Homo sapiens: one gene and its partners. The protein of the gene in region 1 purifies or fractionates together with the protein of each later gene. This does not show direct contact. Each region holds a gene or a part of one and is shown in the gene's direction. Other genes may lie near its edges.

Evidence for each region. Proteins that work in one complex are often made in the same cells at the same time.
Region 2: the proteins of DTX3 (region 1) and RNF114 purify together in Homo sapiens (affinity purification with mass spectrometry; 5 studies listed by BioGRID and IntAct, with this or other methods). This does not show direct contact.
Region 3: the proteins of DTX3 (region 1) and NDUFAF5 purify together in Homo sapiens (affinity purification with mass spectrometry; 4 studies listed by BioGRID and IntAct, with this or other methods). This does not show direct contact.

The regions. Positions count from the first base shown.
Region 1 is NC_000012.12:57,599,984-57,607,824, forward strand, and holds the start of DTX3 (probable E3 ubiquitin-protein ligase DTX3), read left to right. Parts: upstream 1-4,840; 5' UTR 4,841-4,875; exon of another isoform or gene 4,876-5,587; 5' UTR 5,588-5,748; exon of another isoform or gene 5,749-6,206; 5' UTR 6,207-6,269; intron 6,270-6,459; 5' UTR 6,460-6,506; coding exon of another isoform or gene 6,507-6,534; coding exon 6,535-6,535; intron 6,536-6,881; coding exon 6,882-7,630; intron 7,631-7,841. Other genes in the region: PIP4K2C (phosphatidylinositol 5-phosphate 4-kinase type-2 gamma), read left to right, coding at 341-454, 828-1,095, 1,262-1,365, 1,543-1,623. UniProt on the Homo sapiens protein: Regulator of Notch signaling, a signaling pathway involved in cell-cell communications that regulates a broad spectrum of cell-fate determinations.
Region 2 is NC_000020.11:49,931,914-49,939,410, forward strand, and holds the start of RNF114 (E3 ubiquitin-protein ligase RNF114), read left to right. Parts: upstream 1-4,483; 5' UTR 4,484-4,499; coding exon 4,500-4,639; intron 4,640-7,497. UniProt on the Homo sapiens protein: E3 ubiquitin-protein ligase that promotes the ubiquitination of various substrates. In turn, participates in the regulation of many biological processes including cell cycle, apoptosis, osteoclastogenesis as well as innate or adaptive immunity.
Region 3 is NC_000020.11:13,802,022-13,809,041, forward strand, and holds part of NDUFAF5 (arginine-hydroxylase NDUFAF5, mitochondrial), read left to right. Parts: intron 1-1,128; coding exon of another isoform or gene 1,129-1,311; exon of another isoform or gene 1,312-1,395; intron 1,396-6,820; coding exon 6,821-6,881; intron 6,882-7,020. UniProt on the Homo sapiens protein: Arginine hydroxylase that mediates hydroxylation of 'Arg-111' of NDUFS7 and is involved in the assembly of mitochondrial NADH:ubiquinone oxidoreductase complex (complex I, MT-ND1) at early stages. May also have methyltransferase activity.

The DNA.
Region 1 (7,841 bases):
CAGTGAGCTGAGATCACACCACTTACATTCCAGCCTGGGCAACAGAGTGATCGAGATCCTATCTCAAAAAAAAAAAAAAAAAAAAAGAGGAGAAAGAAAAGTCAGCCTGGAGGGTCTTGGCTAAAAACCATAAGCAGAGAGTAGTGGGATGTGATTTGGGATACAGCTGTAGTGACTGAGTCTGTGGAAGTCACTGGAGGTGAGAACAGACCAGGGAAGCATCACAGTGTGGAGTTAGATGAGATCTAACTGAGCTAGCATAGAGCCCTAGACAGAAGGTGGGGTTCTGAGACCTTGGGGAAGGGATATGTTCCCAAGATGTCCCTTTACATATTCTTAGGTTAAAGAATTGCCCACCCTTAAGGATATGGACTTTCTCAACAAGAACCAGAAAGTATATATTGGTGAAGAGGAGAAGAAAATATTTCTGGAGAAGCTGAAGAGAGATGTGGAGGTGATGATTGGGTGCTCTGGGAAATGGCTTTCCTTTTTTTGCTCCCTAGAGGGTAGTTGTCTCTTTCATTCACGGTATGAGGGAGCTCCTCCCCTTCCCTTTATTCTTCAGGTCCTCTGCCTATATGGGGGTTTAGTATGAGACATGAAAAACCCCTGGAGCTGACCCGTGGAAGGGGTGGCTGGAATAAGCTAAAAGGATGATCTTAGATACTAGGACATATAGGCACTAAAGGCAGTGGTATGCCCTGCAACCTCAATTTTTATACTTCCTTTCCCCAGAAGGGCCCCAGAAATTCAAAGGTACAGGTACAGGGGTGATACCTAGCAGTGAAGAGTGAGAGAGAGGTGTCTGATTTGTCAGTGGGTCTCAGTTTCTAGTGCAGCTGAAGATCATGGACTACAGCCTTCTGCTAGGCATCCACGACATCATTCGGGGCTCTGAACCAGAGGAGGAAGCGCCCGTGCGGGAGGATGAGTCAGAGGTGGATGGGGACTGCAGCCTGACTGGACCTCCTGCTCTGGTGGGCTCCTATGGCACCTCCCCAGAGGGTATCGGAGGCTACATCCATTCCCATCGGCCCCTGGGCCCAGGAGAGTTTGAGTCCTTCATTGATGTCTATGCCATCCGGAGTGCTGAAGGTGAGAGAACCGGGACAATTTAAGGGTGGAGAGGGGATTTTTCCTGGAGGACAGAGACCAGAGTGCTGGGGGAGAGCCTGATTAGCTTTTCAGAACAAAACTGACTGCTTCCTGGAGAAAGGGAATTGGAACTAAACCTACTCTGAATTGTTGGTCTCTCTCCCAGGAGCCCCCCAGAAGGAGGTCTACTTCATGGGCCTCATTGATATCCTTACACAGTATGATGCTAAGAAGAAAGCAGCTCATGCAGCCAAAACTGTCAAGCATGGGGTGAGAGTTCGCAAAAGCCTTTCCTTTCCTGTCTTGACTATTCTTTGGGAATAGAGTCTCTTGTGCCAGAGCAATGGGGTGGCAAAAGAATGGAGGTGGTCTGGGGTAGATTGGGTGGGGGTGATGGGGACGGGTGCTAGGGTGGCCTGACATATTGTTCCGTATCTCCTCTCACAGGCTGGGGCAGAGATCTCTACTGTCCATCCGGAGCAGTATGCTAAGCGATTCCTGGATTTTATTACCAACATCTTTGCCTAAGAGACTGCCTGGTTCTCTCTGATGTTCAAGGTGGTGGGGTTCTGAGACACTTGGGGGAATTGTGGGGATATTCTAGCCACCAGTTCTCTTCTTCCTTTGCTAAATTCAGGCTGCAGGCTCCTTCCATCCAGATAACTCCATCCTGTCGAGTAGGCTCTTTCTGACCCTCAGAAATACATTGTCCTTTTTCCTCTTTGCCCATTTTTCTTCCCTCTCTTCCTCCCCATGAGAAGTCTGCTTGTAGTATTAGAATGTTATTGTTGACTCTCTCCCAAGTGCCTTGATCTTTGTAATATCTCCTGTTGTTTCTATGATATAGGAGCTAGGGGAAGGGGGTTGTTTGCCTTCTTCAGGACCTGACTGGACAGATGGACCTGGCTCAAGCAACTACTCTGGATGCACTTTGCTGTGTGGGATGAACTAAAAGTGTCTGAATTTTGCTGATAACTTTATAAAACTCACTATGGCATGCTTCCCTCCTGGTGGGCCCTAGGATGGATGACACTCAAGATACTACAGATGTGGGTGCAGGCATGCACACACACGATGGAATATGGCCATTCCTACACAGGTGGGGTAGAGAGTGGGTCAGCAGCCTGGCACCTCACAGAGGTGGGACCTAAGAGGACTCATGATTATGCAGAGAATTGGATTGGGTCTCTGTCATAGATTGAGTAATCTCTTCCCTTACCTCAATTCCATCTCCACCCATCTCTACATCTGGGCACAGCAACCCAGAGATGGCCAAAAGCATTCAAGCCTGGGGGAAGATGTTTGACTATTGCTGCTCTTCACCAGAACCTCACACCTCTCCTGGGACTGGAACCCTTCAGTGGGTGTGTGGCCAGTTTTGGAGGCTGGAATGATGGGCCAGGGTGTAGGATTCATTCTCCATGTAAAGTTTCCTTTCATCCTGCCTAGCCATCCCCAAGGTTTATTTCCAGAAGAAAGGAATATCTCTACTTGGATCAATTCTGGTCATTTCAAGAGGATGGAGGCCTCAAGTGTGGGAACTTCCCCTACTCCCTGGATGTGTGTACCTAGCACACTTCCTTCTCCCACCCCTTTTTCCAGTTGGATTTGTTTTTCTGTTCTCTTCTGTCCTGTCTTATACTGCAACTGTGTCTCCTAGGGGACAGATGGCCTTCTTTGTCATCTTCACTCTCCACCCCCAGAGAGGAGTCAGAGCCATAACTCAATCACTCAGCCCCTCCAAAGATAGTTGATGTGTGATAATCTCATAATGTTGAGAACCCTGATGAGATACATTGTCTTCCTCTCCCTACAATGCCTCTGGGGCCAAGGCACCCATTCTTCTTGCTATCCTCCATCCCCCTTGAGGCTTCCACTTTTTTTTTTTTTAGACATAAAGCTGGGCATCAGCAACTGGCCTGTGGTGATGCAAAGCTGCTTTGCTCTGTATCTGGCTGGACTGATCTGTCTCACAAGAAGCCATGAGGCCATAGGGAGAAGCTCCCTCTCCCCTTCATCTTCTGCTCCAAAGGTGGTAGCAAGAGGAGTACCCAGTTAGGGGTTGGAGCCCCCATATAACATCTTCCTGTCAGAAGACTGATGGATCTTTTTCATTCCAACCATCTCCCTTTCCCCCGATGAATGCAATAAAACTCTGTGACACCAGCAACCATTGCTCTTTAGAAATGGGTTTTCTGATCATATGGCTGATGTGTTATGGGCAGTATGGATGTCTTCATTTGTTGCTTCTGTTTTTCATCTTTTTTGTTTTATTAATAAAAATTTATGTATTTGCTCCTGTTACTATAATAATACAGGGAATAAATTATTCAATCCAAATTTCTGTACAGAAATGCCTTTTTTTTTTTTTTTTTAAATTTCACTTCTCTCAGGGAGCCTGTGTTTAAGGGTGCAGAGACCAGCTGAAGAATTCTGGTGTTCAAGGTGTTGGGCCCCTAACTAAGGATGTGGGTTTCTAGACAGATGGCTGTGAACTTTTTTAAAAAGGCTGTGAAGGGTGTGCACGGGAATGGAAAACTTAGTCTTTAACCTTGTGGGAGGTCAGCGGTAGTGAGGGCCAGGGAAGAGTAGGGTGATGGGACCCTTCCTCTTCCCAGAGTTCTGGGCTTGCTAACACTCCATCTTTGTAAAGGTGAGTAGGCCTCTCAGCCCACCAGCTAAAAGAAAAGGAATCTAGTATTCCCCCAGGCTTCCTGGGAAAGCTGTCCTCTTCCTGGAGGGAAGGAAGAGTACAGCAGGGTCCTGGGAAAGTGAAGAAAGTGACTAGCCCTCCAGTCTAGAGGGGGGAGTGAAAAAGGGGTGGATGAATAGAGGTTGTTGCCAGTTTGGGAGATTCCTGCCTGTCTTGGCTGAGGAAGTCTTTTGGCTGGTGGAAAAACCTGGCTTGATGTGGCCCCAGGGAAGTGAGTTGGATTGGGCGGAGACTGCTTGATGTGGGAAGCAGAGCAGAGCTTTTTTTTTTTCTTCTTTGAGAGTTTTTAACTCTATTTGAACCATACACTTGACACCACCACCACCTCGAGCCACTTTTTAAAAAATGTATTCGCTTCCCATTCTGCACCAGCCTCCATATCCCTGTTTGTGGAAAGAAAAATCAGAGGCACTGACCAATGATCATCTGAGAGCAGGTTGTGGGGGTCATAGGAGGTAACAATCTAGAAAGAGGCAGGAGATGAGGGAGGGGATTGAAATAGTTTAGTACCCGGATTTGTTTATTTTTTAGAGCCAATGCTTTTCTTTTTACTATGACTCTTCCCATCCCACATTGTTCCTCAAAGGCCCTTCTACCATAAGGATTCAAAAAATTGCCGCCCTCCCCCCGAATCCCCATATACCCACCAACACTTCACCCACCCATCCACCACCAGCTCCTGGGAGCTGCTACGCAGCTGGCTGGGAAAGAAAAGGGAGAGTGCTCCGCCGGGAGCGGGGAGCGAGTAGGGTGGCGTCTCCAGGGATTTAACCTCCTACCCTCAGTTCCATGACGCCACCCCCTCCCTCCAAAGACTGGGACAGCGCCTCCATTTTTGTTTTGGGGAGGAAGGGCAGGGGCTTGCGGATAGAAGGGGGTCAAAGGAACGGTGATTATCACCTGTGAGGGGAAAGGGGGTGCTGTCCTCCCTCCTTCCCTTTTCCTCAGCCTGCACCCCCTGCAATCCCCCACCTTTCGGGGTCTCCCCCTCCTTGTTGCTAAGGCCCGGACCGTCATCCCAGCAACAGCCTCAGTCATGTGACCGGCAATGGCGGCGCTGACGAGAGGTAGGTGAGCCCGGCGCCCCCCACACCCACCGCGCGCCCCCCGGGCCCCGCTCGCACCCCTCACGCGCCCCCCGCTCCCCCGGCGCCCCCTCCTCCACCTCCCCTCCCCGCGCGCGGCTCCGGGCTCCCCGCTCCGTGCCCGGCCGATCATCTTTCTAGCACCCTCCAGCCTTGGCCTCCATTCGGGGGTTCTGAGGGCTGCGATCGGGCCGACATGCACCCCCACCCGGCGGTGGGGATCCGGGGGCTTTGGCTACTGAGGGATGTGGGGAGTTGGTTCCGGGTCGGGTCTTGGAGGAGGCCGTGGGGGGAGGGCGGGAGCTGCTTCAGTGGATGCCCCCAGGGACCCTTGCCCATCCGGGCTGTGCCTCCCTCTGGCCTCTGTCTGGAGGGAGAGACTGGTTCCTTGTCCGGCCTGGGTTGCCACAGAGGAATCACAGACCCACCCTAAACTGGGGCCCCGCCTCCCTTTTCTGTGCCAGCAGGACTTGGACCTAGGACACCTAGGTCCTGGGTCCCCCGTGATGGGGAGAGAAGTGTTGCATCGCGGATAGACTGTATGGGCTGAGACTCTAGGGTTCCATTTTCACTTATGAATCTCGAGGTGCATCTGGCCTTGGGGGACGATGATGGAGGCATGAAGGGACAGCTGCTCCTTCTTGGATCAGTCAATAAATGGAGGTCACACTAATGGCCCTTCTTTCTGTTTGAGCTGCATTTGGAAGTGTTGTGGAGACAGCCCCGTAGCCCAATGCGACCAGACTCAGGGAAAACATCAGGCCCCTCCAGCTGAGCCCTTGTGTGAGCCCCGCCCCTCCCTAAATGCCAGACTTGGGAGCTGACAGACAGCACTGCCTGTGCTGGGTTTAAAAGGTGACAATGAGAACTTTGTTATTGCAGGGGCTGCTGCCACTTTGTTCACATCCTTAACAGACTTCAGCAGAAGGGACTGAGTTAGCTCTCAAGGAAGGCTCCCTGGCAATAGGGGCTGAATTATTTGGCAATGTGGAGCAGGCGAGGAGTTGGGGAGCATAGGAAATATTCCGGTCCATGTGATCTGAGGGAGGTGGCAAGAAGACCTCCACCTGTGTGGGCGTTTTCTTTCCTGACTTCTCTTATGTGTGCCCTAGGCTTTCTTGGGGGCCTCAGAGCTGGGGAAGAAAGGAGGAAGGTTAGCATGTTGAAGTTCCTTCTTGAGCAACTTGGGGAGAAGCTGATAATGGAATTCTGCAGAGAAGAGAGGAGATGGAAGGGGAGTTTTTATTTCTGGGTTGGCTGAGGGGAATGGTAACATTTGCCATCATAACTTTTTACCCTTCCCCCACTCCCAGTCCTGGTCAGCTGAGTGGAAATAGAAGGATTTCTGCTGCCATCATCTTCCATGGGCTTTCCAGGTATCTCCCCCGCAAGGGATCCTCAATTTTCACCCTTAAACTGGTTTCCTTCATTCCATGTTCCAAGTAATGCCATTCTTAGTAACCTATACCCAGGTTTCTGTCTCTGTTCCATGGGCTGCTGGGTTGGGGGCCATGGGAATTGGGAGAAGGGGTTTCTCACTTTCCTTCCATTTTTCCGCCCTACCAGGTCACACGACCTACAAGTAGGGAGCAGGGAAAGAAGAGTGAGCCTGCATGCCAATTCTAAGCTCTTCAGGATCAAAGTAAGCAAAAAGGAGGGGCAAAGAGTCTCCCTCCCCTTTAAACAGCCCATTTTTCCCCAAGAGGTGGGAGGGGCAAGTTGTTTCTATGATCTGGGAGAAATGACAGGAGAAACAAGACTGATACTTGGCTTAGATGATAATATAGCTCTGGAAACTTTTTTGCTCTTCAGTGGGTTTTGGGTTTGGAAGATAAGGGGAGACAGAATATGAATTTGGGTGAAGGGTTGGGGATTAGGCTTTGAGAAAACAGAGGTAATAGAGGGTTTGGAAGGAACCTGAAGTAGGAGGCACTGATACTTGTCAAATGGGGACCCCCCACCCTGAGTCCCTTTCACCCTGGGGGCAGTGTCGTTCGTCCTGTCCAGAATGGCAGCCTGTGGAGGCACCTGCAAGAACAAAGTGACTGTGTCCAAGCCCGTGTGGGACTTCCTGAGCAAAGAGACCCCAGCCCGGCTGGCCCGGCTTCGGGAGGAGCACCGTGTGTCCATCCTCATAGATGGCGAGACTTCTGACATCTATGTTCTCCAGCTTTCCCCACAGGGTCCTCCCCCGGCCCCTCCAAATGGGCTCTACCTAGCCCGGAAGGCTCTCAAGGGGCTGCTAAAAGAGGCAGAGAAAGAGCTGAAGAAAGCTCAGAGGCAGGGGGAGCTGATGGGCTGCCTGGCTCTGGGGGGTGGAGGGGAGCACCCTGAGATGCACCGCGCAGGCCCACCCCCTCTCCGAGCAGCCCCACTTCTGCCCCCAGGAGCTCGGGGGCTCCCCCCTCCTCCTCCCCCCCTGCCCCCACCTCTTCCTCCTCGCCTTCGGGAGGAGGCAGAAGAGCAGGAGAGCACCTGCCCCATCTGTCTGGGGGAGATCCAGAATGCCAAGACATTGGAGAAGTGCCGGCATTCATTCTGCGAGGGCTGCATCACCCGGGCTCTGCAGGTGAAAAAGGCCTGCCCCATGTGCGGCCGCTTCTATGGGCAGCTGGTGGGCAACCAGCCCCAGAATGGGCGGATGCTGGTCTCTAAGGACGCCACCCTCCTACTGCCCAGCTATGAGAAGTACGGCACCATTGTCATCCAGTACGTCTTCCCGCCCGGTGTCCAGGGGGTAAGAAGACCATGGCCTGCCCTTACCCTTTGGCTTTCCCCAAGCTCTGACCTAGGAAAACCGGGTGAGGGTGAGTGTGCTTGTTAGATGTGAGACAGTCTTGCTGTCTTCCACTGTGCCCTCCTACTCAGTGCCCTGGACCTAGGAGGTCCCCGTGAGGCCCAGCCTTTCCATCCCTGTGATCCCAAGGCACACGTGAAAATCAGATATG
Region 2 (7,497 bases), on another chromosome or scaffold:
AGGATGGTCTTAAACCCCTGGACAAAAGTGATCCACCCCCCTCAGCAACCCAAAGTGCTGGGATTACAGGCGTGAGCCACCATGCCCAGCCCTTTCTTAAATTTAAGCAAACAAATTTTAATAATGATGGCTGACTCCTGTAATCCCAGCACTTTGGGAGACCAAGACAGGAGGACCATTTGAGCTCAAGAGTTCGAGACCAGCCTTGGCAACATGGTGAAACCCTGTCTCTACAAAAAATTTAAAAATTAGCTGGGTGTGGTGTGCACGCCTATAGTCCCAGCTACTTGGGAGGCTGGGGTGGGAGGACGGCTTTTGCCCATGAGGTGGAGGTTGCAGTGAGCCAAGATTTTGCCATTGTCCTCCAGCTTGGGCAACAGAGCCAGACCCTGTCTCAAAAAAGAAAAAAAAAAGCCTAGGCAACATAGTGAGACCCCATCACTACAAAAAATAGAAAAAATAGCTAGGTGTGATGGCACATGCCTGTAGTCTCACCTACTCAGGAGGCTGAGGCAGGAGGATCACTTGAGCCTGGGAAGTCAAGGCTGCAGTGAGCTGTGATCACATCACTGCACTCCATCCTGGGTGACAGAGTGAGACTCTGTCTCAAAAAAAAAAAAAAAAAAAAAAAGGAAAGAAAGAAAGGGAGGGAAGGAGGGAAGGAACAAAGGAAGGAACGAAGGAAGGAAGGAAGGGAAGGAGGGAGGAAGGAAGGAAGGAAGGAAAAAAGGAAGGAAAAATTTAGGCTGGGCACAATGGCTCACGCCTGTAATCCCTAGCACTTTGGAGGCCGAGGTGGGCCGATCGTGAGGTCAGGAGATCGAGACCATCCTGGCTAACATGGTGAAACCCCGTCTCTACTAAAAATACAAAAAAAATTAGCCGGGCGTGGTGGTGGGCGCCTGTAGTCCCAGCTACTCAGGAGGTTGAGGCAGGAGAATGGCGTGAACCCAGGAGGCGGAGCTTGCAGTGAGCCGAGATTGTGCTACTGCACTCCAGCCTGGGCAACAGAGCGAGACTCTGTCTCAAAAAAAAAAAAAATTAATTTAAAAGAAATTTTTTTTGAGACTGAGTTTCACTCTTGTTGCCCAGGCTGGAGTCCAGTGGCTCGTTCTCCACTCACTGCAACCTCTGCCTCCTAGGTTCAAGCGATTCTCCTGCCTCAGCCTCCCAAGTAGCTGGGACTACAGGCATGCACCACCAGGCCCGGTTAATTTTTGTATTTTTAGTAGAAACAGGGTTTCACCATGTTGGTCAGGCTGGTCTTGAACTCCTAACCTCAGGTGATCCACCCGCCTCAGCCTCCTCCTGCTGAGATTACAGGCATGAGCCGCCATACCCAGCTTTTTTTTTTTTTTTTTTTAAAGAACATGATTCAACTGTATTGCTCTCTATAAGAAACTCACTTTATAGACTGGTTCTGAAAGGATGGAAAAAGATATTTCATGCAAATATCTTTTTGCGTGACCAAAGAAGAGGAGGGCTGGCAATACTAATATCAGAAAAATTACTTGTCCAGGCCGGGCACGGTAGCTCACACCTGTAATCCTAGCACTTTGGGAGGCCGAGGCGGGTGCATCACCTGAGGTCAGGAGTTTGAGACCAGCCTAAAAAATATGGTGAAATCCTGTCTCTACTAAAAATACAAAAATTAGCCAGGCGTGGTCGTGCATGCCTGTAGTCTCAGCTACTCAGGAGGCTGAAACAGGAGAATCACCTGAACCCAGGAGACAGAGGTTGCCGTGAGCTGAGATCACACCACTGCACTCCAGCCTGGACGACAGAGCAAGACCCTGTCTCAAAAAAAGAAAAAAGAAAAATTACTTGTCCAAAAGGTTACAAGAGATAAAGAAGGCATTGTATGTTAATAAAAAGTTCAATACAGCAAGAAGATATAACAATTATAAACATTTATATACCTAATAACAGACCATCAGAACATATGAAGCAAAAATTGGTAGAATTGAAGGAAGAAATAGACAATTCCACAATAATAGTTAGAGACTTCAATGCCCCACTCCCAAGAATAAATAGAACAAACAGGAGACAAGTAAGGAAATAAAGGACTTGAGCGACACAGTAAGACAACCAGGTCTAACACATGTACAGACACTCCCCAGCAACAACAGCATCCACATTCTTCTCAGGCACACATGGGATATCCTCCAGGATGGACCATATGTTAGGCCACAGATTAAGCCTCAAGAGATTTTAAAAGGTAGACATCAGCCAGCTGTGGTGGCTTAGGCCTGTAATCCCAGCACTTTGGGAGGCTGAGGCAGGAGGATTGCTCGTGCCCAGGAGTTTGCAACCAGCCTGGGCAACACAGCCAGACTTCATCTCTACAAAAAGAGACAGAAGAAAAGGAGAAAGAGAGAAAGATAAGAAGGAAAGAAAGAAGAAATAAAAGAGATCATACCAAATATCTTCTCCAAGCACAATTGGATAAGGCTAGAAATCAATATGGGGGGGTTAAAAAAAAAAAGAAATCAATATCAAAGGAAAACTGGAAAATTCACAAATTTGTGGAAATTTACACACTCTTAAAAGAACCAATGGATCAAAGAAGAAATCACAAGGGAAATTAGAAAATACTCAGAAACAGGCCAGGCTGGGTGGCTCACACCTGTAATCCCAGCATTTTGGGAGGCCGAGGTTGGCGGATCACTTGAGGTCAGGCGTTTGAGACCAGCCTGGCCAACATTGTGAAACCCTGTCTCTACTAAAAATACAAAAATTAGCCAGGCGTGGTGGCAGGCACCTGTAATCCCAGCTACTTGGGAGGCTGAGGCAAGGGAATTGCTTGAATCCAGGAGAGGGAGGCTGCAGCGAGCAGAGATTGCACCAATGCACTCCAGCCTGGGCGACAGAGTGAGACTCCATCTCAAAATAAATAAATTAATTAAATAAATAGAGAAAATATTGAGAAACAAATGAAAACAAAAACACAGCATGCCAAAATTTACTGGACACAGTGAAAGCAGTGCTCAGGGGAAATTTTATAGCTATAAGTGCTTCAAAATCATAGACAGAAAATTGCCAGGGCCTGGGGGTATGGGGATGGGAGGAGGGAAGAGGAAGTTATTGTTTAATGGGGACAGAATTTCAGTTTCAGTTTAGCAAGAAGACCAGAATTTTAGAGATAGCTGATGGTGATGATTGCACAATATGAAATGAATGTACTTTGTTGTTGGGGTTTTTTTGTTTTGTTTTGTTGTTGTTGTTGTTGTTTTTTGAGAGGGAGTCTCGCGCTGTCGCCCAGACTGGAGTGCAGTGGCAAGATCTTGGCTCACTGCAAGCTCCGCCTCCCAGGTTCAAGCCATTCTCCTGCCTCAGCCTCCCGAGTAGCTGGGACTACAGGCGCCCGCCACCACGCCCGGCTAATTTTTTGTATTTTTAGTAGAGACAGGGTTTCACCGTGTTAGCCAGGTTGTGTTTTTGTTTTTTTTTTTTTTTTTCAGACGGAGTTTCGTTCTTGTTGCCCAGGCTGGAGTTTAGTGACTGTTGGAGTGAGTGAGCCATCTTGGCCCACGGCAACCTTCGCCTCCCAGGTCAAAGGCTTTTCCTGCCTCAGCGTCCTGAGTAGCTGAGGCTACAGGCATGGGCAACCACGCCTGGCTAATTTTAGTATTGTTAGTAGAGACGGGGTTTCACCATGTTGGCCAGGCTGCTCTAGTACTCCTAGGCTCAAGCGATCCGCCCACCTCGGCCTCCCAAAGTGCTGAGATTACAGAAGTAAGCCACCTTGCCCAGCTCCTTTGTATAAATAAATGATATTGATTTTCTTCTTGCAGCTCAGGAATTAGATCTGTTATTAGAATTTGCTTAAATTTAAGAAATGGCTGGGTACTGTGGCTCACCGCTGTAATCCCAGCACTTCGGGTTGCCGAGGCAGGCGGATTGCTTGCGTCCAAGAGTTCGAGGCCAGCCTCGGCAACACAGTGAGACCCGCCCGCTCTCTGCACCACTCCTTCCCCCCCTCCTTTCCCCGTCTCTACAAAAAATACAAAAATAAATAAATTAGTCCGGCATGGTGGTGACTGCCTGTGGTCCAGCTACGCAGGAGGCTGAGGTGGGAGGATCGCTTGAACCCCGGTGGTCGAGGCTGCAGGGAGCCATGATCGCGCGCGCCACTGAACACCAGCCTGGGCGACAAAGCAAGACCTTGTCCCAAAATAGATTAAATAAATAAATAAATAAATTTAAGGAAAAAGCAACTTGATTCGAAGATAAATAGTGATAGTGCAAGTGGTGCCGAACTAACGATAAATTTGGAAAACAGCGGCCCACGCGCAGAGCCCGTCCCAATTCTGGCAGCCTTTGGATTTGGCTTCCACGTTTTCCAGATTTCCCTCGGCCTCTAGCTCGCTTGCGTCAGAGGGGCCCCGAGGGGCGGCCCACCCGCTAGCCCCGCCCCCAACCGCTCACCGCCCCGCGAGCCCCGCCCCCTCGGCCTCCTCCTCATCGGCCGCCGTTGCGCGGCGCAGAGCGGCAGCAAGATGGCGGCGCAACAGCGGGACTGCGGGGGTGCTGCGCAGCTGGCGGGGCCGGCGGCGGAGGCTGACCCCCTAGGACGCTTCACGTGTCCCGTGTGCTTAGAGGTGTACGAGAAGCCGGTACAGGTGCCCTGCGGACACGTGTAAGCGGCGAGCCCGGGCCTGGTCGGGGGGCGCTTAACTGGGAAGGGAATGGAGCCGAGGAGCGAGATGGGTCTCAGGGCGGGAGCCAGAGGACCCACCCAGAGGGGCCTCCCGGGGGTGTCCCCCGGGGCTCCTAAGGGCCGTGAAAGCTGCCGGGGCGCTCTTCTGTCCCGCCCCGCTCACTCCTAAGTATCCCGTTCCTCCGCCCGTCTTAGCGGGGCAGCTGCTGTCTGTTGAGCGCCTGCGATGTTCCAGGCGGCCTGTCAGTCTCCTTCCCACACGTGATAGTGGACTCGTGCCCTGCGGGGACTTTAGGCTCCGAAGTCCGCCCTTGGAGAGCCGACGTTTCCTTTCTAGTCCACGTCGCTCTTAAAGCATAGGACATTTGGCGTCGTGTCTAGCTGTGGCGAGTTATTCTACTGTGCACTAAAGTCGGGAGAAACGCTGAACTAGACTAAAACAACAAAAGGGAAGTCTTTATGGGGATCTGGCCAGTTTGCCCTTAGCTGTGAAAGGGGGGTGGGAGTTGGCAGATGGGATTGTTAGCATTCTACTTCCTGTGTAGGAGGTTTGTTTCTTTCAGTTTTCAATTAAGCCTTCATGACCTGAATATTGTGAATAGAGTGGTTATAATGATTAAAGCAGATATGTGTATAAATGTCCAGTCCAGGTCCTGGGCTGTGGCCGGGGCTTTCGAGGTTGGTCAGGTTGGTCGATTTGAATCTAAGCCTTGTTCCATCAGACGCACAAACACATCTGAGTTGAAAGAATTGTAGACAACGTGGCCACCTGCTTCTTGCCTCAGAATTGGCTTTTCCTCTGGCCCCTCTCAGTGCTTATCGTGGGATCACCTTGGCATTGGTCTTGGCAGCGGGCACAGTAGCCATTGCACTCCATGGGCATTATTCTATAGCCACCCTGCAGCGGGGGAGGGTTGGCAGCCATTTTACAGGTGAATACACTGAGGGTCCGAGGCTCTCTTAGGGAAGGGTCACCGTGGCCTAGCTCTTCCCAGATGTACTGCAGGTGACCATTTCAGTAGTCCAGAGAACAGTGCTTGGCACCTAGCTGGCTGCTTTTTGCTTCATCATGTTGCTTTAGGCTATTCATCTTTGCAATTCGGTTAGCCTGGAACTCTTCCCCCCACCCCTCCCTTTTCAGGCTTCAAGTCCCAGGTTAAGTTACCTCACCAAATACCATCCCCATCTAAATTACTTCCCCCACTTCCTTTCTGGGACTTAACTTCCTTCTCCTTGCTTGCACAGAGCAAAACTTAACAGCTCATGACGGAGTGGCCATATCTTTATTGCCCCTGAACTGACTGGAATGGCCTCTGTGTGCCAGATTTTGGGGTAGACTCTGCCTTCAGAGTTTACAGTCCAGTGAATTGATTATAAATAAGTACCAATGACTGGTCAAACTATTGTAAAAATTCATTCTGCAAGTGGGAGGGTATTTCAGGGATCACACCTCTGTGCGTGGGGTGAGTGATCAGGTAATGGTTGAATGAACTAATAAGTCGTGTAAGCAAGCTTCACGAGAGTTGAAGTGGTCTTTAGCTTTTTCATTGAATCCACTTATCCTTGGATCAGATTTACCTGATTTTGGATTAATTCAGTGGATTTCATTTACTATTAACATTTGTAAAAAGGCTAGACCCAGCACAGTTTGCTAAATGAAGAGCAGCAAAATTTGAGATTTTCTTGAGCTTGGTGAACCTTTCCTAGGTCAGAGGGCAAGGAACAGTACTGGTTTTCAAACCTTGGCTCTTCTCTATCCTCGCTGTCCTAGCCCCACGTGATCAGCAGTTCAGTGCAAATTGAAGACAGATGGAAGCACCTCTGTGAGGGCAGCCCAAATCCCCGCTAGCTCCAACCGACTGCTTTCTCCTGTGCCTAGTTGATTTTTACCTTTTGTGCTTGGAAAGTTGAGCATCACTGCAACTCTGGCTGGGGCATTGGATTTTTATAAAACTTTATTTCAAGCCCTGAATGACTGTGTTCTCCAATCTGGTAGAATACAGCTGGAGAAAGGCAGCTGGCTGGGTGCCCAAGAGAAGGGAATTTCTTCCTAGCACTGTGACGGAGTGGAGCATCGGAAGGCTGAACTAGAAAAGGGCGCATAAGTAGGAAATAGAAACTGAAAAGCCATCCCAGGATATTTGAGTTGTTCAAAAGCAGGCTGGTAGTTTGGGCATGTCTCAGGCACAAAGTGACTCGTGAACATTTGATAGATGAGCTGTACCTGTGTGTGTGCTTGAGAAGAGACTTCGAGCTGCTTTTATCTGCATGCTGGGTTTGGTTCCATTATACTCACTGGACCCTCTGTGCTCTCTTGGGTTCCTCTTGTCATCTGCCTTTGTGAACAGGCAACACAAGTGATGGCCACAGGCCCTGCCTGTCTCTACTGCCTCATCACTTGCCCTTCTCACCATGGTCTACCGCATCATGGCCCCCAAGGTCTGCCTGCCTTCCTTTCCAGTCCTCATTTGTGTGTGGCGTGATCTTGGTGTGGAGCTCTGCACCCAGATCTGTGTGGCTGTCCTCGTAATCAGGTCCCACCCAGCTCAAATGCCAACTCCTCAGAAGCAGCTTTCTATGATCACCCCAGCTGGTCTGTTTGCCATATTTCCTTCATATTTTTAATCACTATCTGAAATTAACATTTGTGTTTCCCTTCACTCTAGAATGTAAGCATCATGAGAACAGGGCTTTGTCAAGTTTCCATTGCCCTCAGTGGTGAATGAATAGACTCCCTCACCTTCTCTGTACCTGGTCTGGAATTTTGCCTAACAGCATTAACATCTAACTTAATGACAAGGAGGAAGGAGATTCTTAGAGGCAGTAGAAAATGGTCA
Region 3 (7,020 bases), on another chromosome or scaffold:
ATAGGAAGAAAAGGGGATAAGTAGGGGAACCTGTAATATTACCACCAATAACTACCCCCAAACAGTGCCATATGAAGCAGAAATGAGAGAATGTGTGTTCTCAAGGCCTAGGGTGAGATCAAGGCTAAAGAAGGTAGGACAGGGTGCTGTACTCCATTAGGGCTAGAGAAATCTCGAAAGAAGACCCATGGGCAATCAGTGAGTAATAAGCATGAAGTCAGCATGGTACGGTGACGGGGTAGGACAGTAGGACTTTGTTCTCCGACAGGAGTAACTTGGATCCTTACCCTATTTCTTTACTAGATAGGGAAATTTGAGTAACTTACCTTTTTGAGCATTTATTTCTTTTAAAAATGCAAATGTGTGGCTGGGTGCGGTGGCTCACGCCTGTAATCCCAGCACTTTGGGAGGCCGAGGCAAGTGGATCATCTGAGATCAGGAGTTTGAAACCAACTTGGCCAACGTAGTGAAACCCCGTCTCTACTAAAAATACAAAAAATCAGCGAATTGTGGTGATGCATGCCTGTAATCCCAGCTACTCTGGAGGCTGAGGCAGGAGAATTGCTTGAACCCGGGAGGCGGAGGTTGCAGTGAGCTGAGATCACGCCATTGCACTCCAGCCTGGGCAACAAGAGTGAAATTCCCGTCTCAAAAAAAAAAAAAAAAAAAGCAAATGTTACTCACCTCACCCTTTAAAGAGATAAAGGGTGTGAAGTACCAGGACCATGGTAGATGCTCAGCTTACATTAGCTCCTGCCTTCCTCTTTCCCCATCACTCTACTCCCAGCATTTTTCTAGAACTAGGCTTCCAAGAGACAGCCATCTGGAGAGAATGATTGCCCTCTTCTTCCTCCCTCCACTAACAGTCTTTCTAAAGGATGTCATTACTCTCTTCAGAGATCAGTCCAGTAGACTTAATATGAATTTCCAAACCCCTCAGGCCTAGAAACATCCCTAAACCTGATTAGTGGAAATAGGAATTTCTTGATGAAGAAAGCATCTTGCTACATAATTAGAGATGATAAGCTTAAACGCTAAAATAGCTGTTTGGCATGATTTTGTGTGAATATATTCATGAAATCAACCAACCAAAAATAGATTGTGTCATATCCTTCCTTGTTTTTATAGAAGCAAGGGGCATGGGCAAGCAGGGCCCCTGATGTTGGAAAGGAGCCTCCAGGGAGGGAAGAATTAACAGGCTGGAGGACTAGGCTGGGAACTGAAGAGAACCCCGGAGGCTTCACACCTGTGACTAGTGTTGATCTTTTGTTAACTTTTAAATGGCCTGAGTCCATAGAAACTGCATCCTGAGAGGTTGCTCGGCTAGAAAGCGGAAAACCGCTTCACATGAGTGCTCTACTTTGTAATGAAAATAAACACTATTAATACAGGCAATTGTACACTGAAGGATCATTGTATTTATATTTGTAATTGTATAAGTAACACAAATATATTTTGGTTGTAACTATTAAGCTATACAGATAAAGCGAAAGTCTGTCATTCCCCCTTAATCCTAAAAATGCTTAGCTCTCTCTTGAGAGTAAGAGTTCTCAAAATTTTGGTCTCAGGACCCCACTACACACTGAAAAGTAATGAAGAAACTTTTAAAGGGCTTTTTGTATAGTGAATTAACATCTGTCAGTATTCACTATATTAGACATTAAAACTGAATTTGTTTTCGTATTCATTTAAAGCTAACAATAATATACCTATTACTTGTTAACATAAATGACCCTTTTTAATAAAAAATAACTATATTTTCTTTTAATTTTTTTTTTGGGGGGGGGACAGTTTCACTCTGCCACCCAGGCTGAAGTGCAATGGCACGGTCTTGGCCCACCACAATCTCTCCCTCCCAGGTTCAAGTGATTCCCCTGCCTCAGCCTCCCGAGCAGCTGGGATTACAGGCACGTGCCACCACGCCCCATTAATTTTTGTATTTTTAGTAGAGATGGGGTTTCACCATGTTGGCCAGTCTGGTCTCGAACTCTTGACCTCAAGTGATCCGCCCACCTCAGCCTCCCAAAGTGCTGGGATTACAGGCATGAGCCGCTGCGTCTGGCCATATTTTCTAAAACAAAAATAATTGAAAGGGAAGAATGACATTGCTTCACATTTTTGCCAGTTAATGTGCACCTTAGTAACAGAGCTAGATTCTCATGTCTGTTTCTGCATTCAAGTTTCTTGTTACACCATGTGTCATGTCATGTCTCCTCTAAAATAACCCATCGTAGAATAAGAGGTAAAAAGCCAAATAGTATCTTGGTATTATTATGAAAATAATTTTGACTTTGTGGACCCCCAAAAAAGTCCTAGGGACCCCAGGACTCTCCAAACCACACTTGGAGAACTACTGTCCTAGAGGTAGCTACTATTATCACTTTAGTGTGTAACCTTCCAGACTTTTTTTTTTTTAACAAGGACTACTTTATATAGACAGTCATATGTATTCACACATTTCTGAAACTTTTTTTATTAACAGTATATGTATTTCCAATATACTGTTAATAGTTTTCTAAATTGGTATGGATATATTTGCACTCCTTAATTTCCGCATATTATTTCCTAGTATGAATGTACCACAGTTTTACTTAACTATTTACCTGTGAATGACCTTTAGGTTTGTTCTGATTTTTTGCCAATAGTAGCAATGCTGCAGTGAATATCCTTCTATACAAATTCATTTATGTATTCAGTCTTGCAACAAACATTTACTGAGTACCTTCTGTGTGTCTGGTACTATCCTAGGTACTTCAAATATAGCAGTGAACAAAACAGAAATCCCTGCGTGGTGTTTTTGGGTTTATAGCAGGCCTGTTGGTAAACTTTAGACCGTTCAATAATACTGGGATGTTGTACACAAAATTTGTGGTGGTGGTGTTCATAAATGGAGGAAAGTACCCATGGTTTTCATCAGATCTTGAGAGAGCTAATATAACTAAAAATAGATTAGGAACCAGTGATTTAAAGCCTTTTTGATAATATTTATTTTACTTATAATATGGAAAAAATTTCCTTTACAGTCTACCCTCTTGAGAATCGTCTCCTATATTGCTGTGTCACCAACCTATCATTGAGATGAAAAAAGAATCTCCGGGAATGTAAAGCCTCTAAAAAGTATAGGAGGTGTAGGGCTGGGATGGTGTGGCGATGTGTAGTGCACATTTTCATGAGGTGATGTTAAAAAATTTATACGAGGTCATACAGGTTAGTCAGCAATATTACAGGACTCAAAAGTTATTGCCCATTACGAAAAAAATGGGATTTCTGCTAATCACCAGAAGAAAGTTAAATTATGTGAACTACACATGGTTTTCTGTGGTTATAAAGAATGAGTTTTAGAAAGATTTCTACTAAAAATGTTTAACCTGATGTTAAAATGTTTAAAAGCCTACATTTCTATTAATTGGGAAATATAATTCAGAATACTATCCATATTCTCTAAAAATGAGCCTAATGACTCATACTTTAATATAATATAAAAATATTGGTGTAGAATCTTCTTTAGTTTATACAATTAGAAAGTTGCTGATTTAATAAGAAAGTTATGAGAATGTCTTCTTGAATCATTACATTTATCCTGTGAGGCATGTATACAGTTTTGTTTCTGAGGTGCTGTATTAATATTGCGTCCTGGCCAGGCACAGTTGTTCACTCCCATAATCTCAGCACTTTGGGAGGCCTAGGTCAGAGAATCACTTCAGCCTGGGATTTCAAGACCAGCCTGGGCAACATAGGGAGTCCTCATCTCTAAAAAAAAATTTTTTTAAATAGCTGGGCCTGCCTGTAGTCCCAGCTACTCGGGAGGCTGAGTTGGAAGGATTGAGCCTGGGACGTTGAGGCTGCAGTGAGCCATGATCTCACCACTGCACTCCAGCCTGTGTGACAGAGCAAGATCCTGTCTCCAAAAAAAATAATAATAATATGTGTTCTAATTCATTTTCTAAAAATTCCCATCCAAAAAAGCTTTTGTATAATCAGCTATACAGGTTTATGTTGCATACATTAGATATATTACTTTTACGCTACAATGGATTTTTATTTTTAAAGTGAAATCGAGTCAGATTAGTATCATATAGATGTATTTACATCTTAATGTATTTTCATCTTAATGAATTATTTTCAGAGAATGAGCATTCTAAGTAAAGCTGATTTCCGTTTTAGAACTGAACTACCAGACTAGTACTTTAAGAGAATGGTGCAAGGCCTGGCACGGTGGCTCACGCCTCTAATCCTAACACTTTGGGAGGCCAAGGCAGGCAGATCACAAGGTCAGGAGATCAAGACCATCTTGACTAACACAGTGAAACCCCGTCTCTGCTGAAAATACAAAAAAATTAGCTGGGCGTGGTGGCACATGGCCTGTAGTCCCAGCTACTTGGGAGGCTGAGGCAGTAGAATAGCTTGAACCTGGGAGGCGGAGGTTGCAGTGAGCCGAGATCGCACCACTGCACTCCAGCCTGGGCGCTGGGTGGCAAAGTGAGACTCCGTCTCAAAAATAAAATAAAAAAAATGGTGCAGATATGGTCCCCTTTTAATTTAAATAAGGCCTTCAACAAAGCTGTTGTGGCATTCTTTTGATTGAAGTGGAGATAGTGCTTTTAGTTGGTTGCACTGAAGAATTGTTTTCAAAGGATATTGCTTAATGGCTAGATAACAGCCTGGAAAGAATTTTGTTTTTAATCTTAGGATCTCCTCTTAAAAACAGCTTGTTAATATGGAAAAGTATATGGATGATGAATGTTCATGGTCTCACTACCTAGAGGTCTCATTAAAAAGCATACACAACCTGATACACGTATATGTTTTTTTAAAGAAGAGTAAGGTATATATAGAGAGAGTGATACAGTGGGGTGTAAAGTGAAACGAAGTCTCCTCTTCCTGACTTCTCCCTCTGTTGCCCAGGCTAGAGTGCAGTGGCGAGATCTCCGCTTACTGCAACCTCTGCCTCCCAGGTTCAAGGGATTCTCATGCCTCTGCCTCCCAAATAGCTGGGACCAAGGGCATGTGCCATCACACCCAGCAATTTTTTTTTTTTTTTTTGAGATGGAGTCTTGCTCTTTCACCCAGGTTGGAGTGCCGTGGCGTGATCTCGGCTCACTGCAACCTCTGCCTCCCGGGTTCAAGCGATTATGCTGCCTCAGGCTCCCAAGTAGCTGGGACTACAGGCACCAACCACCATGCCTGGCTAATTTTTTGTATTTTTAGTAGAGATGGGGTTTCACCATGTTAGCCAGAATGGTCTCGATCTCCTGACCTCATGATCTGCCTGCCTCGGCCTCCCAAAGTGCTGGGATTACAGGCATGAGCCATCGTGCCTGTCCCTCCTCCTGACTTCTCAAACCCTGGTCCCTTTCCCCAAAGATTTGTTAGCTGTGTCTTAGACATCGTTTCAGATCCACTTTTTTTTATAGACCCATAGAATACACTTATGTCATTTAAACTTACTTATATAATATTACATGCACTCTTTTGCTTTTTTTTTTCCAGTCAATAACATGTCTTGGAGATTTTTTTCCTATAGACATGTATCTACCTTATTTTTTGAGAACTGTACAGTATTTTATAGAATACATATTCTTTAATTTGTTTAACCAGTCCTCTATTAATGATGTTTAGATTTATTTTAGGCTAGTTTCCAGCCAGGCGCCATGGCCCACACTTGGAATCCCAGCACTTTGGGAGGCTGAGGCTGGTGGATCACAAGGTTAGGAGATCGAGACCAGCCTGGCTAACACGGTGAAAGCCCGTCTCTACTAAAAATACAAAAAAAAAAAATTAGCTGGGCACGGTGGCAGGCGCCTGTAATCCCAGCTACTCGGGAGGCTGAGGCACAAGAATCGCTTGAGTTCAGGAGGCAGAGGCTGCAACGAGCAGAGATCACACCACTGCATTCCAGCCTGGGCAACACAGCAAGAATCCGTCTTAAAAAAAAAAAAAATTATTTTAGGCTAGTTTCCAATAAGAATAAACCCCTACTTTTAGTGCCTAACACAATAAAGTTTTATCACATCACAGCTGCGTGCTGGTGGGACAGCCCATCTCCATCTTGTAGCTGTGCCATCTGGCCCTGTGTTCTATAATCTGGCCCTGTGTTCTATAAGATCACCACAGCAAAAGAGATGGCCTGGAAAAGGCTCTAGCTCTTAACTGTCTTGCCCCTCCTTTCTTTGGCCAAAAGAAATATGTGTTTGAGATTGGGAAGTGTCAAGGAGCACCTGGATATTTGGGGAGCATCAGTGGTCTCTGCCACTGTACCAACAGTTAAGTCCTGTATCAGGCTTCAAAAAGAAGAGGAAGTCATTACCCAATTGTTCATTTGAGAAACAAACTCCACATGTATCAGCAATGTGCTCATTTCCTAAACAAGCCTATTGGCTGCATTACTAGATATAGAATGAAATATTTTGATTCTAGGTGCCCCATTTTAAGAAAGATTGATATTGACACTGTCCAGGGACATGTAGTCAGAACATGTAAGGATCTCCAGATTTTTGTGTCCTGAAGGTTTTCAAAGACTTGGAGGAGAGGGCAATGGTTTGTAGGGTACAGAATACTCTTATTCTGTGTGGTTCCCAAAGAGAGAACTAGAACCAATGATGGAGTTTTAGGATGATTTCTCTCACAATGCAGGATATTTAATCAGCAATTAGAGACTTTCATAAATCAAACATAAGCCAGATGACATCTATGAAGAATATTGTAAATATTTTTTGCTTAGCATGGGAGATTGGTCTGGGTAGTCTCTGCGGCCTCTTTTTTAAATCTGGAATTTTGTATCATGAATGTCAAATGAATATTTCTTTTTCTTTTTAAATAGGACACTGATGAAATTCAAGTTAACTATCCTGGAATGTTTGAATTGATGGAAGATTTACAAGGTAAGGCACTTTAAAGAATTTTTAGACTCCATTGGGAAAGGTAGGCCAAAAAAAAAGAATTTTTAGACTCCATTTGAGAGAAACATTTTGAGAGCCAGCTCTTTGGCAGGCACTGGGCAAAGCACTAGGGATCCATTGT